3 separate regions of the Homo sapiens genome follow, and regions 1 and 2 are each linked to region 3. The links come from fine-mapping of genetic effects on gene expression. A gene starts in region 3. Each other region holds a variant in brackets. All regions are shown on one strand. Distances are between the middles of the regions. Region 1 overlaps EEF2K (eukaryotic elongation factor 2 kinase). Region 2 overlaps EEF2K (eukaryotic elongation factor 2 kinase). Region 3 holds the start of EEF2K (eukaryotic elongation factor 2 kinase).

What was found. PIP is the estimated chance that this variant, and not a neighbour inherited with it, causes the effect. A credible set is the group of variants that fine-mapping cannot tell apart.
Region 1: its variant is the best candidate, but not a certain one, in a credible set for the expression of EEF2K in T cells (TOPMed, PIP 0.62).
Region 2: its variant is the best candidate, but not a certain one, in a credible set for the expression of EEF2K in whole blood (INTERVAL, PIP 0.89).

What each region holds. Positions count from the first base shown.
Region 1 is chr16:22,288,008-22,292,203 of GRCh38, forward strand. EEF2K (eukaryotic elongation factor 2 kinase) reads left to right here. Exons shown (of 18, transcript NM_013302.5): 18 at 1-731. Among named protein-coding and RNA genes, the nearest start is that of TRL-AAG2-4, 7.0 kb to the right of the region's middle. The variant GT/G (reference allele first, on the strand shown) is at 2,103.
Region 2 is chr16:22,238,629-22,242,824 of GRCh38, forward strand. All of the region lies in intron 2 of EEF2K (eukaryotic elongation factor 2 kinase), which reads left to right. Among named protein-coding and RNA genes, the nearest start is that of EEF2K, 34 kb to the left of the region's middle. The variant T/A (reference allele first, on the strand shown) is at 2,562.
Region 3 is chr16:22,204,396-22,208,591 of GRCh38, forward strand. It overlaps EEF2K (eukaryotic elongation factor 2 kinase), which reads left to right and starts at 1,883. Exons shown (of 18, transcript NM_013302.5): 1 at 1,883-2,284. RefSeq lists silencers at 1,654-1,953, 2,114-2,383.

The DNA of each region.
Region 1 (4,196 bases), 84 kb after region 3:
GAGGTGGAGTCTCGCTCTGTTGCCCAGATTCAAGTGCAATGGCACGTTTTGGCTCACTGCAACCTCTGCCTCCCAGGTTCAAGCGATTCTCCCTGTCTCGGCCTCCCGAGTAGCTGGGACTACAGGCACCTGCCACCACGCGCAGCTAATGTTTGTATTTTTAGTAGAGACGGGGGTTTCACCATGTTGGCCAGGCTGGTTTCAAACTCCTGACATTAGGTGATCCACCTGCCTCGGCCTCCCAAAGTGCTGGGATTACAGGCATGAGCCACCGTGCCAAGCCACGCCTGGCTAATTTTTTAAAATTATTTTTTGCAGAGACAGAGTTTCACTATGTTGCCCAGGCTGGTCTTGAACTCCTTGGCCTCAAGTGATCCTCCCACCTCAGCCTCCCAAAGCATTGGGGTTACAGGCGTGAGCCACTGCACCTGGCCCTGTTTTCATGGCTTTTATTTCCTTTCATCCCACACATTTGTCTGCAGTACTAGACATGTTTTACAAATCAACAAGTTTACACAAGTATATGCAGCTTGTTTTGGGGGGAAAGGAGACAAAATATGCATATTTTCTGTGTGGATTTGTGCCTCTTAATTGTGTTTCTAGTCTCTAAGGTGACCCTTTAACCTACTCAAGATGGGGCCCAGAGAAGTGGCCTGCGTTACAGATTTATTTTGGCATATGTACTAAGTTCCATTTTCTCTTTACAAATAAAGTGTTTTCTTTCTTTTCTGTCTCAGACTCAAATGTCTCCTGGTTTGGAAAAAAAAAAAAAATGGCCAGGCGTGGTGCCTCACGCCTGTAATCCCAGCACTTTGGGAGGCCGAGGCGGGCGGGATCACCTGAGGTCAAGAGTTCCAGACCAGCCTGGCCAACATGATGAAACCCTGTCTGTACTAAAAATACAAAAATTGGCCGGGCATGGTGGCGCACACCTGTAGTCCCATCTGCTCAGGAGGCTGAGACAGGAGAATTGCTTAAAGCCGGAAGATGGAGGTTGCAGTGAGCCCAGATCCTGTCATTGCACCCCAGCCTGGGCAACAAGAGCGAAACTCCATCTCAAAAAAAAAAGGTGGGGGATCGGGTGCGGTGGCTCACGCCTGTAATCCCAGCACTTTGGGAGGCTGAGGCAGGCGGATCACAAGGTCAGTAGATCGAGACCATCCTGACTGACATGGTGAAACCCCGTCTCTACTAAAAATACATTAAAAAAAAAAAAAAAAAAAAGCTGGGCGTGGTGGCAGGCGCCTGTAGTCCCAGCTACTCGAGAGGCTGAGGCAGGAGAAAGGCGTGAACCCGGGAGGTGGAGCTTGCAGTGAGCTGAGATCACGCCGCTGCACTCCAGCCTCGGCGACAGAGCAAGACTGTCTCAAATAAATAAATAAATAAATAAATAAATAAATAAAGCTGCTGCAGGCAGGGGTCAACGAGAAGGCTCATACCCCATCTGAAAGGGGCAGCCATGATTCAACTTCAAATGATTGCCACCATGGGAAGCGCGGGCTCAATGTTACCCTATTTTCCAATTTTTCAAGAGCTGCTGAAAACTTTTTTTTTTTTAATGCAAGGCCTTCTGTTCTTTAACATTTGTAATAAATTCTAATAACTTTTCAAAGCCTTCCAGATTTGGCTCGTCTGCTGTCAGTTTGCTTTAGAGAAAGTATTAGAACCTCTCGTTTCTTCATTTGCTCATCTATAAAACATAGAGTTTTTCTGTTTGTTTTTCAGACAGTCTCACTCTGTTGCCCAGGCTAGAGTGCAGTGGCAAGATCTTGGCTCACTGCAGCCTCTGCCTCCGAGGTTCAAGTTATCCTCCCACCTCAGCCTCCTCACGAGTAGCTGGGACTACAGGTGAGCACCACCGCGCCCGGCTAATTTTGAAGGGGGGCAGGTTGTGTTTCATCTTGTTTTTTCCTTTCTTCCAGTGGAGACAGGGTTTTGCCATCATGCCCAGGCTGGTCTCGAACTCCTGGGCTCAAGCAATGCACCGGCCTTGGCCTCCCAAACTGCTGGAATTGCAGGCGTGAGCCACCGTGCCCGGCCTGAAGAATAATTTTTACCATTACAGAGTTGTAAGCTTCAGAGAAGATAATACATGGTAAAGT[GT/G]TTTTTTTTATTTTTATTTATTTATTTTAAGATGGGGTCTCATTCTGTCACCCGGGCTGGAGTGCAGTGGTGCGATCTCAACTCACTGCAACCTCCGCCTCCCGGGTTCAAGCGATTCTCCCGCCTCGACCTCCCTAGTAGCTGGCATGGCAGTACAGGCGCACACCACCATGCCTGGCTAATTTCTGTATTTTTAGTAGAGGCAGGGTTTCACCATGTTGGCCAGGCTGGTATCAAACTCCTGGCTTCAGGTGATCTACTCACCTTGGCCTCCCAAAGTGCTGGGATTACAGGTGTGAGCCACCACGCCCAGCCTAAAGTGCTTTTTTAATTCCAAGCTTAAGAAAATCTTGGTTACCAGTTGATCTTTTGGTTTTAAGCTAATTTTTTTTAATTTTAAGAAATTTGAACATTAGTATAACTATGCATGGTAGGTTGAACATACATATTTAGGTCCACTTGTTCCTAAATCCCCACTGCAATGACAGGAAGTGGATTCTTTTGTTTGTTTTTTTGTTTGTTTGTTTGTTTTTAAATAGCATAAGCCGGTGAGGATGAAGAGAAAGAGGATTGAACAGCAAGTTTTGGGTGCTGGAAAGTAGGTAGACTGTAATTGAATTAACAGACCCAAGAAGTCTGGATCCTAGATCAGCAGTAGAGAAATCTGAGAAAAACCCAATTTTCATTGCTGAACAAGTCCTGCAAGGCTGAGAAATTGGCACGAGGAGGCCTGGCACCGTGGCTCACACCTGTAATCCCAGCACTTTGGGAGGCTGTGGTGGGCAGATCACTTGAGGTCAGGAGTTAGAGCCCAGCCTGGCCAACATGGTGAAACACCATCTCTACTAAAAATATAAAAATTAGCCAGGCTGAGGCGGGAGAATCACTTGAGCCCAGGAGGCAGAGGTTGCAGTCAGCCGAGATCACACCACTGTACTCCAGCCTGGGTGACAGAATGAGACTCCATTTCAAAAAAAAAAAAAAAGATTAGAGAGAAGTTAATAAAGAAAACTTTTCTGTTGGTTTTGTTACAGCATACGTCAAAATTTTATTACAGTCTTGACCGGGCGTGGTGGCTCACACCTGTAACCCTGGCACTTTGGGAGGCCAAGATGGGAGGATTGCTTGAGGCCAGGAGTTCAAGACCATCCTGGTCAACACAGTGAAAGCCCATATCTTAAAAAAAAAAAATCACAGTCTTGCTGCAAGTGTAAACCCACTGGGAATTCAAAGATTTATACTTGGTAGGGACATTTTCTAAAAATTTATTTTTTATTACAGTCTGCCTATGTAGATTAAACTGCACGCTCTTAAGTATACAGGTTGATGAATTTTTACATTTGTACACATCTGTGTCTTAACAACCCAATTCAAGATATTAGAACATTTGCAGGCCTACAGAAGCCCCCCTGGACCCCTTCCCAGGCAATACACCCTCTCTCCACCCCGAAAAATGTTGGCCACTCTTCTGACCTCTATCTTGATAGAGACATTTTCTAGGAGAAGAAAATGATTAGATAATCACTGTTAGACAAAATAGAAAAGAAAAGAATGTTCCGTTAAAGGTCACTGCACTCTTGACTGACAAATGACCATCAACTGAGTGAGTAGAAAGCTAGTTTCCCAGTGTAAATCTCAATGCTCTTAAATTTCAAAAGAAAAATGCTCAATGCTCGAGCATTTATCAGAAATGCTAGTTTCTTTCCAGAAGGAGGTTCTTACAGAAAGATATGGTCTCAGGCCAGGTTTGAGAGCATTTTCCTTTTATGGGAGCAAGGGAGGAAAGAATGGAGGGGATCCAGGACTGAGACCCCACACCCATTTCCACTATCCACAGCCTAGTGTTTATGATATAGGGACAGGCACACAAAGAATAGTCGGAGTTTCAGCCCATCCCTCCCTTGTCAGGCATCCCGCTGCTGAGACCTTGTAGGTCCAGGGGTTCTGATGCAACATTCTGCATCTCTTGCTCATTGATTTCATGTCTGATTGTCATGAGAAAACTGTGTAAGGGGCTGCTGGACTGTAAGAAACTCTCAAAAGGGTGCTGTGCCTTCCAGGATCAGCTGTTTCCCTGCAGGCTTCCTCTTAAT
Region 2 (4,196 bases), 34 kb after region 3:
AAGTAATAAATACCTGGTCTCAAAAAAAAAGAAAAAAGGAAAAAAAAAAAAAAAAAAAGCACTGATCATCCTTGGACCAGCTTACCTGGACACACCTGGGTAGGTGATAGGAATGGCTGGGTCAGAAGTCGGTGCAGAAGAAGGTTCATAGCCACTGCCAGGTGGCTCTCAAAGATGGCAGTACCTGCTTCCATTCCCCACCTGATGGTAACATTACTGGTGATTTGTAGCTCCAGCAGGAGTCACCCATAATAAGCACTGCCACCCCAGTGAGCCACTGTTTTTGGTGGGAGTGTGTCTACCCTGGGTGCAGGGGCCACAAAAAAGTGGACCACCAGCAGCCAAAACCTTCTTCATCCTTGTTTGTAAACAAGGAAATGGAGGTTCCCACAGCCAGTCAGTAAGCTGGAACCAGAGTCAGGGACATGAATGTTAGTACAGTACTTTTTATACTGTGCTTATTAAAAAAAAAAAAGTCAGTTGCATTAATCCCACCTGTTGCCAATAAGGTCTGGCATGACTCTGTTCTGGGTTTGGAAAAAAGGTAATTTTTATTCTATGAAATACCACACCCTCTAATTCTGCAGTACTTTCCTCCCTGTTTTGTGGTTGGTGCCACGGCATCCAGCCAGGAGGTAATTTCTGTTGCTAATCTTCACTGAATGGGGACGGTCCCTGTTAGTGGCTTACGGAGTGGCGGAGTCGTTTGAGAGAGGCACTGTCAGAGAATTGTGTGTCGTAGACAGAGAACAGGGCACCTGTACAGACATGCTTGGAAGGGTGGCCTGCTGAATTCTCAACCCTGCAGGCTCTCCTGACAGGTGGAGGTCGAAGGCTGTCCCTGCCATTTGTAGCAGCCGGAATATGAGCTGAGACTGGTGCTTTAAGTTACGGGGATTGGGCTGGGCGTGGTGGCTCATGCCTGTAATCCCAGTGCTTTGGAAGGACAAGGCAGGAGGATCACTTGAGCCCAGAAGTTTGAGAACAGCCTGGGCAACATACCGAGATCCTGTCTGTACAGAAATTTAAAAAATTAGCCAGGCATGATGGCAAGCGCCTGTCATCCCAGCTATTCGGGAAGCTGAAGCAGGAGGATCACTTGAACCCAGGAGTTTGAGGCTGCGGTGAGCTGTGATCATGCCACTGCATTCCAGCCTGAGTGACAGAGCAAGACCCTGTCTCTTTAAGAGAAAAAGTACAGGGGCCAGGCTCATGCCTGTAATCCCAGCACTTTGGGAGGCCGAGGCAGGCGGATCACAAGGTCAAGAGATCGAGACCATCCTGGCCAACATGGTGAAACCCTGTCTCTACTAAAAATACAATAATTAGCTGGGCGTGGTGGCGCAAGCCTGTAGTCCCAGCTGCTCAGGAGGCTGAGGCAGGAGAATCGCTTGAACCCAGGAGGCAGAGGTTGCAGTGAGCCGAGATCATGCCACTTCACTCCAGCCTGGTGACAGAGCCAGACTCCATCTCAAAAAAAAAAAAAAAAAAAAGGTACAGGGACCGAAATTCAGAAAAATGTTTTAGACATACACATGTCTGCTGTGGGGTTATTTACAACAGGGAGCAATCAGTGACAAGCTTGAAGTCTAACAGTGGAGAGCAACAGGTGAATAATCAAGTCAATAACAAAAAAGTTATACAGTAGATTATTATGCAACTATTAAAGCAGGATGCAAATAACTTATAAATTTTATAGTTATCTGATGTACTGTCTGTGCCAAAAGAATTTTAGTGATTTGTTTACTGCTTCTTGGAGTATAACTTGGGATAAATTTTTTGGCAGAGAACTCAGTCATTTCTAGATTTTAAATGTGATCCAGCAGTTACATTTCCCAAAAAATATGTACTACTGAGATCTTGCACAAGCGCCCAAGATTTGGATAGGAAGATGTTCACTTCAGCACTGTTTGTACTAGGAAATGTTGGAGGGAACCCAAACATTATTCAATTGGAGGTTAGGCAAATACCTTAAGGTACATTTATATAATTATATATCTGGTAGTTCTGGAAATGAAAGGAGGTTACCCCAGCCAGTCTGCACATATGACATGGAAAGATGTCCAAGATCTTACATTAAGAAAAGTCAGATGCACAACAGAACATGTGGTGTGGTCCAATTGCTCTTTCTTTTTATTTTGTTTTATTTTTATTTTTTTGAGATGGAGTCTCACTGTGTCGCCCAGGCTGGAGTGTAGTTGTGCTCTCTTGCCTCACTGCAACCTCCGCCTCCTGGGTTCAAGCGATTCTCCTGCCTCAGCCTCCCAAGTAGCTGGGATTACAGGCTCGTGCCACCATGCCCGGCTAATTTTTGTATTTTTAGTAGTGACAGGGTTTTACCATGTTGGCCAGGCTGGTATCAAACTCCTGACCTTGTGATCTGCCTGCCTCAGCCTCCCAAAGTGCTGGGATTACAGGTGTGAGCCACCGCGCCCGGCCTAAACTGCTCTTAAATATGTGTTTATGTTCACAGAGGCATAGGAAAAAATTTTGCAGAATGTCTACATCAACTGTCAGCTGTGGTTTTCAGAGGAAGTGGATTAGGGAGGACTTCCGCTTTC[T/A]AATTCAGAGTTCTATAGTGCTTGCAGTTTTTATGTGATGTGGATCATACTTTGGAATCAGAAAAAAAAATTGAGATCACTAAATAAAGCACAAAATCCCATTGACCCACTCTTCTGTAAGGAGGTGAATTATATTTTATGGTATGATACCAATCTTATTAAAAAATGCATGTAGGCCGGGCAAGGTGGCCACGCCTGTAATCCCAGCACTTTGGGAGGCCAAGGCGGGTGGATCACCTGAGGTCAGGAGTTCGAGACTAGCCTGGCCAACATGGTGAAACCCCGTCTCTACTAAAAATACAAAAATTAGCCAGGCATGTTGGCTCACGCCTGTAATCCCAGCTACTCAGGAGGCTGAGGCAGGAAAATTGCTTGAACCCAGGAGGTTGCAGTGAGCTGAGATCACCCCACTGCACTTTAGCCTGGGTGACAGAGGGAGACTGTCTCAAAAAAAAAAAAAAAAAAAAAAAAAACATATAGAAGATCTGGAAAAGAATTAGTCTACGGCATTGCTCCAGTGGATGGTATATGGTGGATTTGACTTTTGTCTTCTGTATTCTCCAACTTTTAAATTAAGTCTAAATTAGCTACCAAAATAGAAGAAAAGAATTACAGGCTTTATTTTTTGAACTCTGCAGAGGTAAAAAAGCCCCAGCAGGCTAGGTGCAGCAGCTCATCTCTGTAATCCTAGTTCCTTGGGAGGTTGAGGCAGGAGGATCACTTGAGGCCAGGAGTTCGAGACCAGCCTGGGCAACAAACGTAGTGCAACCCGGTCTCTGCAAAATAAAAATAAAAATAAAAAAATTAGCTGGGCATGGTGACACACAAGTGTAGTCCCAGCTACTCAGGAGGCTGAGGCAGGAAGATCGCTTGAGCCCAGGAGTTTTGAGGTTGCAGAGAGCTATGATCACACTACCACCACGTAGCCTGGACAACAGAGAGAGACCTTATTCCTATTTAAAAAACAAAACAAAAACCCAAAAACAAAAGAAAGCCCTAGAGAGAGTGAGAGGCCTGGGCTCTGTGTGTGTGTATTGGAAGGCCCAGCTCCACTGCCTGAGCTGCTTCTATTTTGAGCAGGACCCAGTGCTGGGGATGAGGTGAAGCCCTGTTTGGGCTGAGTCCTTGGGAAGCTGGACTCTTTTTTTTGGGTACAGAGTCTTGCTCTGTCACCCAGGCTGGAGTGCAGTGGCCTGATCTCCATTCACTGCAACCTCCACCTCCTGGTTCAAGCGATTTTCCTGCCTCAGCCTCCCGAGTATCTGGGATTACACGTATGCACCCAGCTTTTTTTTTTTTTAAAGTAGAGACGGGGTTTCACCACGTTGGCCAGGCTGGTCTCGAGCTCCTGACCTTGGATGATCCATCTGCCTCGGCCTCCCAAAGTGCTGGGATTACAGGCGTGAGCCACCATGCCTGGCTACTCTCAATAGGTTTTGATAGATTTGGGAGTTCTTTTGGGCCATCATAATGATGGGGTGGTGGGCACTGCTGGCATAGAGTTAGGGAAGGCCGGGAATGCCAGCAACCCTGAAACAGGGCTGTTCTGCACGATGAATTTTCCTGCATCCCACAAGATCTTGGAACAGCTCATGGGAATCGTTTCATAATTATCTGAGGCCAGAGTTAAATGCT
Region 3 (4,196 bases):
GATGGTTTTGAACTCCTGGCCCCATTGATCCTCCTGCCTTGGCCTCCCAAAGCTCTGACATTACATGTGTGAGCCACCTTGCCCGGCCTTGAGTAATTTTATTTTACCGCAGTAGACATCTCCTTGAAGGCAAATGTTTCCCCCAATTCCTAGCACCATATTTGGCACACAATAGGAGCTTAATAAAATTTGCCATAAGAATTAATGCTCAGAAACTCTACTATTACATCCTATCTGCTCAACTCCCTGGAAAAGAGACATTCTCTTTTTATGGTTACTATAAAAGGCCCAGATTAGTATTTCACTGGCCTAACTTGGATCACATGCTCATCCCTGAACCAATCAATGAGGCTGAAGGGATGAAATATGCTAATTGGCCAGGTCTGGTCATGTGTCCATTTTTGGAGCCAGGGGAGTGGGGAGGGCTATTTTCCTGAACTGAAATAGGGTGAACTGGTTCCCTGAAGACTAACCAAGACGCTAATGCAAAGAAGGACACTCCTGCTGGGCAGACAAAAATGACAGAGGCTCAGAGAAGTAAAATAACTTGCCCAAGGGCCATAGAGCTTTAAGCAGTAGCGTCTTTTTTTTTTTTCCAATCTTGCTTTGGGCTTGGACAGACTAGTTCAGCATCTTTGATCTTCCCTTCCTGCCTGACGGCCCCAGGGTCAGAATTCCAGGTGCAATTTTGTCTTGCCAAAAGCTGGAGTTTACTCTCTTTGGGGTTTATAAATAAGGAAAAAAGTTCTTTGGAGAGCCTGAACTTTGAAATCAGAGAAGTCTGGATTTACTGCTGGCTCTGCCTTTTCTAGCTGCCTCACCTGGGGCATGTCATTATCTCTATAAGCCTCAGTTTTGTTCTTTTTTCTTTTTTATTTTTTTGTTTTTGTTTTTTTGCGACGGAGTCTCATTCCTTCACCCAGGCTGGAGTGTAGTGGCGCGATCTCGGCTCACTGCAACCTCTGCCTCCAGGGTTCAAGCGATTCTCGTGCCTCAGCCTCCAGAGTAGCTGGGACTACAGGCGCGCCCGGCTGCTTTTTTGTATTTTTACTAAAGACAGGGTTTTACCGTTTTGGCCAGGCTGGTCTCGAACTCCTGACCTCAGGTGATCTGCCGGCCTCGGCCTCCCAAAGTGCTGGGAAGATGGAATGAGAGAAATCCCTCAAAACATGTCATTGTTACTACTTTTCTATCTAGAATGTGTGAAATTTCTAAAATTTCACTAACAAAGTATCTGGAAGGACCTAATATTAAAGTGTTCACAGTAGCTATTAGTTTTAATTCGTTTTCTTTTTTATACCTTAGCCACTCTACCACTCATGCCACAGGTATTTATTAAGCATCTACTGTGTGCCACCCAGGCCCTGTGTCAAGAGTTAGGAATAACTAAAGGAGATACTAATTTTAAAACTACACAAATAATTGCAATCGTCATACGTGCCTGTTTTTACAAAGCAGAAATCAGGAAAAACAAAGTATTTCCGATAAAAAATATTTTAAGGTTATGGATAGAGATACATACAAACAAGCGATGGGCTTGGATCACTAATGATTTTGGAAAGGACAGGAATACAGGAACTAAGCGAGAAGCAGGCGAGAATGGCGAGGCGCGGCGGGAGAGGACGGAAGTTGGTCACTCCCTCGAATTGCCCCCTCGCTGCCGGATGCTAGGCCAGCCTTGAGCAGGAGAACCGGACACTGTGTACTCAGCAGGGGGAGCCAAGACTTAGCGCTAACCATTGCACCTGGGGCTGGGAGCCAGCGCCGGAGCCAGGAGGCCCGCTAGGCGGCTGCAGGCGCTGTGATGGCCACCTGGGGGCGGCCACGTGAGCGCCACGCCGTGCGCCCGCCAGGCCAGCCCCGCCCCTGCCCGCCCGCTTCTGCTCAACCTAGACCAGCCCCAGCTTCAGCCTCAGCTCCCCTCCTTCCTGGATCGAGCGCCCGCACTCCCGGCCCTGCAGCCACCCGAGTCCCGCTCGCTGTCGCCTGCACGCGAGTCCCCCCTGGCACGCGCTCCCACATCCCGGGATCGTCCCAACGGCCCCTGCGCCCTTCCTGGGATCACTCCGACTGCCCCGCGCGCCCTGGGATCGGTCCATCTACCCCGCGTGGCCCCAGCTGCTTGCCCGGAGCGCCAGCTAGCGCTCCCCGCTCTCCGCTCCCCGGCACTCTCGGGGGGCCCGCCCGCCCTGCACCCTGGAGCTCCGGGCCGCGAGCCTCTGCCAACTCCTCTGGACCCTCGCGGCCGTGGGCAGCGGCTGCCGCGCCTGTCTGCCCGAGGGAGGTAGGTGTGGACCGCGGCCGGCAAGGCTGTGGGGGGCTGGGAGCCCGCGCTGCAGGCCTGTGCGCCCGGGTGCAGCTGGCGTCTGGAGCGTGCTGGGTCTGGGCTTGGGAATGGGGCCGGAGAAGGCATGGAAGGAGAGTGTGGGGGCGCTTCTCCTCTGGTTGTTAAACTCTCTGGGGCTAAGTGCTTGCTTTGGAGAAATGGGGAAGTTGTGCGGATTAAAGGCGATGTGGATATGGAAAGCAATTGGCAAGCAATGGGCGGTGATCTGGCTGCAAGTGACAGAGAGTTTGGGGGCCTCCCCCCTCGGGGCCCCTAGAGTGTGGGCGCATCGCTGCCTTCCTGTCCCCTGCAGGGCTCAGAGCCGCATCCCCCACCTTTCCCCTGAACTAGAGGCCTGCGTCAGCCCGAATTCCCGGAACCTCCAGGACTGTATAGACGCGCCCTTGCTGCATTGTTGGCTGCGGGAGTTTGTTGGCAGGCGCTGCTGACATGTGTGCCAAGGGGCTGGGCATTAATAAGCCGGTGGCCGCGCGGGGGTGGGGGCCTCCCGGGTAAGCCCCGGCCTAGATCCTTTTGCGCGCGCCTGGGGGATTTCGGGGAACCAGCCCAGCTGCGCCCTGAGTGTGACAGATGGGCCGCATGGGGAAGTGAGATCTGCCCAGGGGGACGGTCCCAGGGAGCCCGACCTCTGGGACCTCGGTGGTGGGTGCTTCTTCAGCCAGGAAAGCAGGAAACACTAGGGCTGGAGTCCTGGGTTGGAATTCTAGCTCATTTATGCTCTCTGGCCCTCGGTTTTCTCATCGGTAAAATGGGTACAGTATTAGTATCTACCACTTAGTATCCTTGGAAAGAGTAGATGAGTATGTATATGTCAGGTGCTTGGAACAGTGCCTGGCACACAGTGTCATAGTCTATGGCCCCGGGAGACATCTGATGGCCAAGAGCCCTGTGGTTGAGGGCCCTGGACAGGCTGTGAAGTCACAGCGAATTGAGTCACGTAGTCTATCCTAATGTTTTTAGCGAGGAGGAAACCGAGGGTCAGAGTGATCCCCAGGCCCACAGAAGCTCCCTAAGAGGAAGCCAGTCACATAAACAGATTCTAAAAAGCGAGATGGAGTAAATGGGAATACAGAGCAAGCAGGTGGGAGCTGAGAATGCCCACTGTGTGTGTAAAGGGGAGAGGGTTATGGGGGAAGGCTTCCTGTAGCAAGTGCTGTTTAAGCTGAGCTGGGGAAGAGGCAGGTGGAAGGAGGTAGAGTTCAGAGATGGCGTATGCAGGTGTCTTCCTTCTGTGTGGCCTCCACAGCACCCGATGTTCATTCCTTTGTTCAGCTATTAATTCAACAACTACAGTAAAACCTCTCAAGGACATGAATTTCAGTGTAACATGGCTGGGATTGGCGTCCGCCCTCCTCTCAGCCCCCATTCTCAAAGAAGGGGGTGGGGTCCGAAGTTCTTATCCTCTGCAGGGAATGGGGAGGCCAGAAGACAGAACTGAAGTGGTCACAGTTTACACATAATCATCGGTGTACATTCCAAGAGCTACCGGTGTTTTGGGCCAGGGGCGTGGTGGCTCAGGCCTTTAATCTCAGTACTTTGGGAGACTGAGGAAGGTGGATCACTTGAGGTCAGGAGTTTGAGACCAGCCTGGCCAACATAGGGAGCCCCCATCTCTACTAAAAATACAAAAATTAGCTGGGCATGTTGGCATGAGCCTGTAATCCCAGCTACTCGGGAGGCTGAGGCAGGAGAATCGAGAATCGTTTGAACCCAGGAGGTATAGTTTGCAGGGAGCTGAGATTGCACCACTGCACTCTAGACTGGGCAACAAAGCGAGACTCTGTCTCAAAAAATAAAAAAGATCCACCAATTTGTTTTTCTTGTGCTTTTTGTAACTGTACAGTACTTT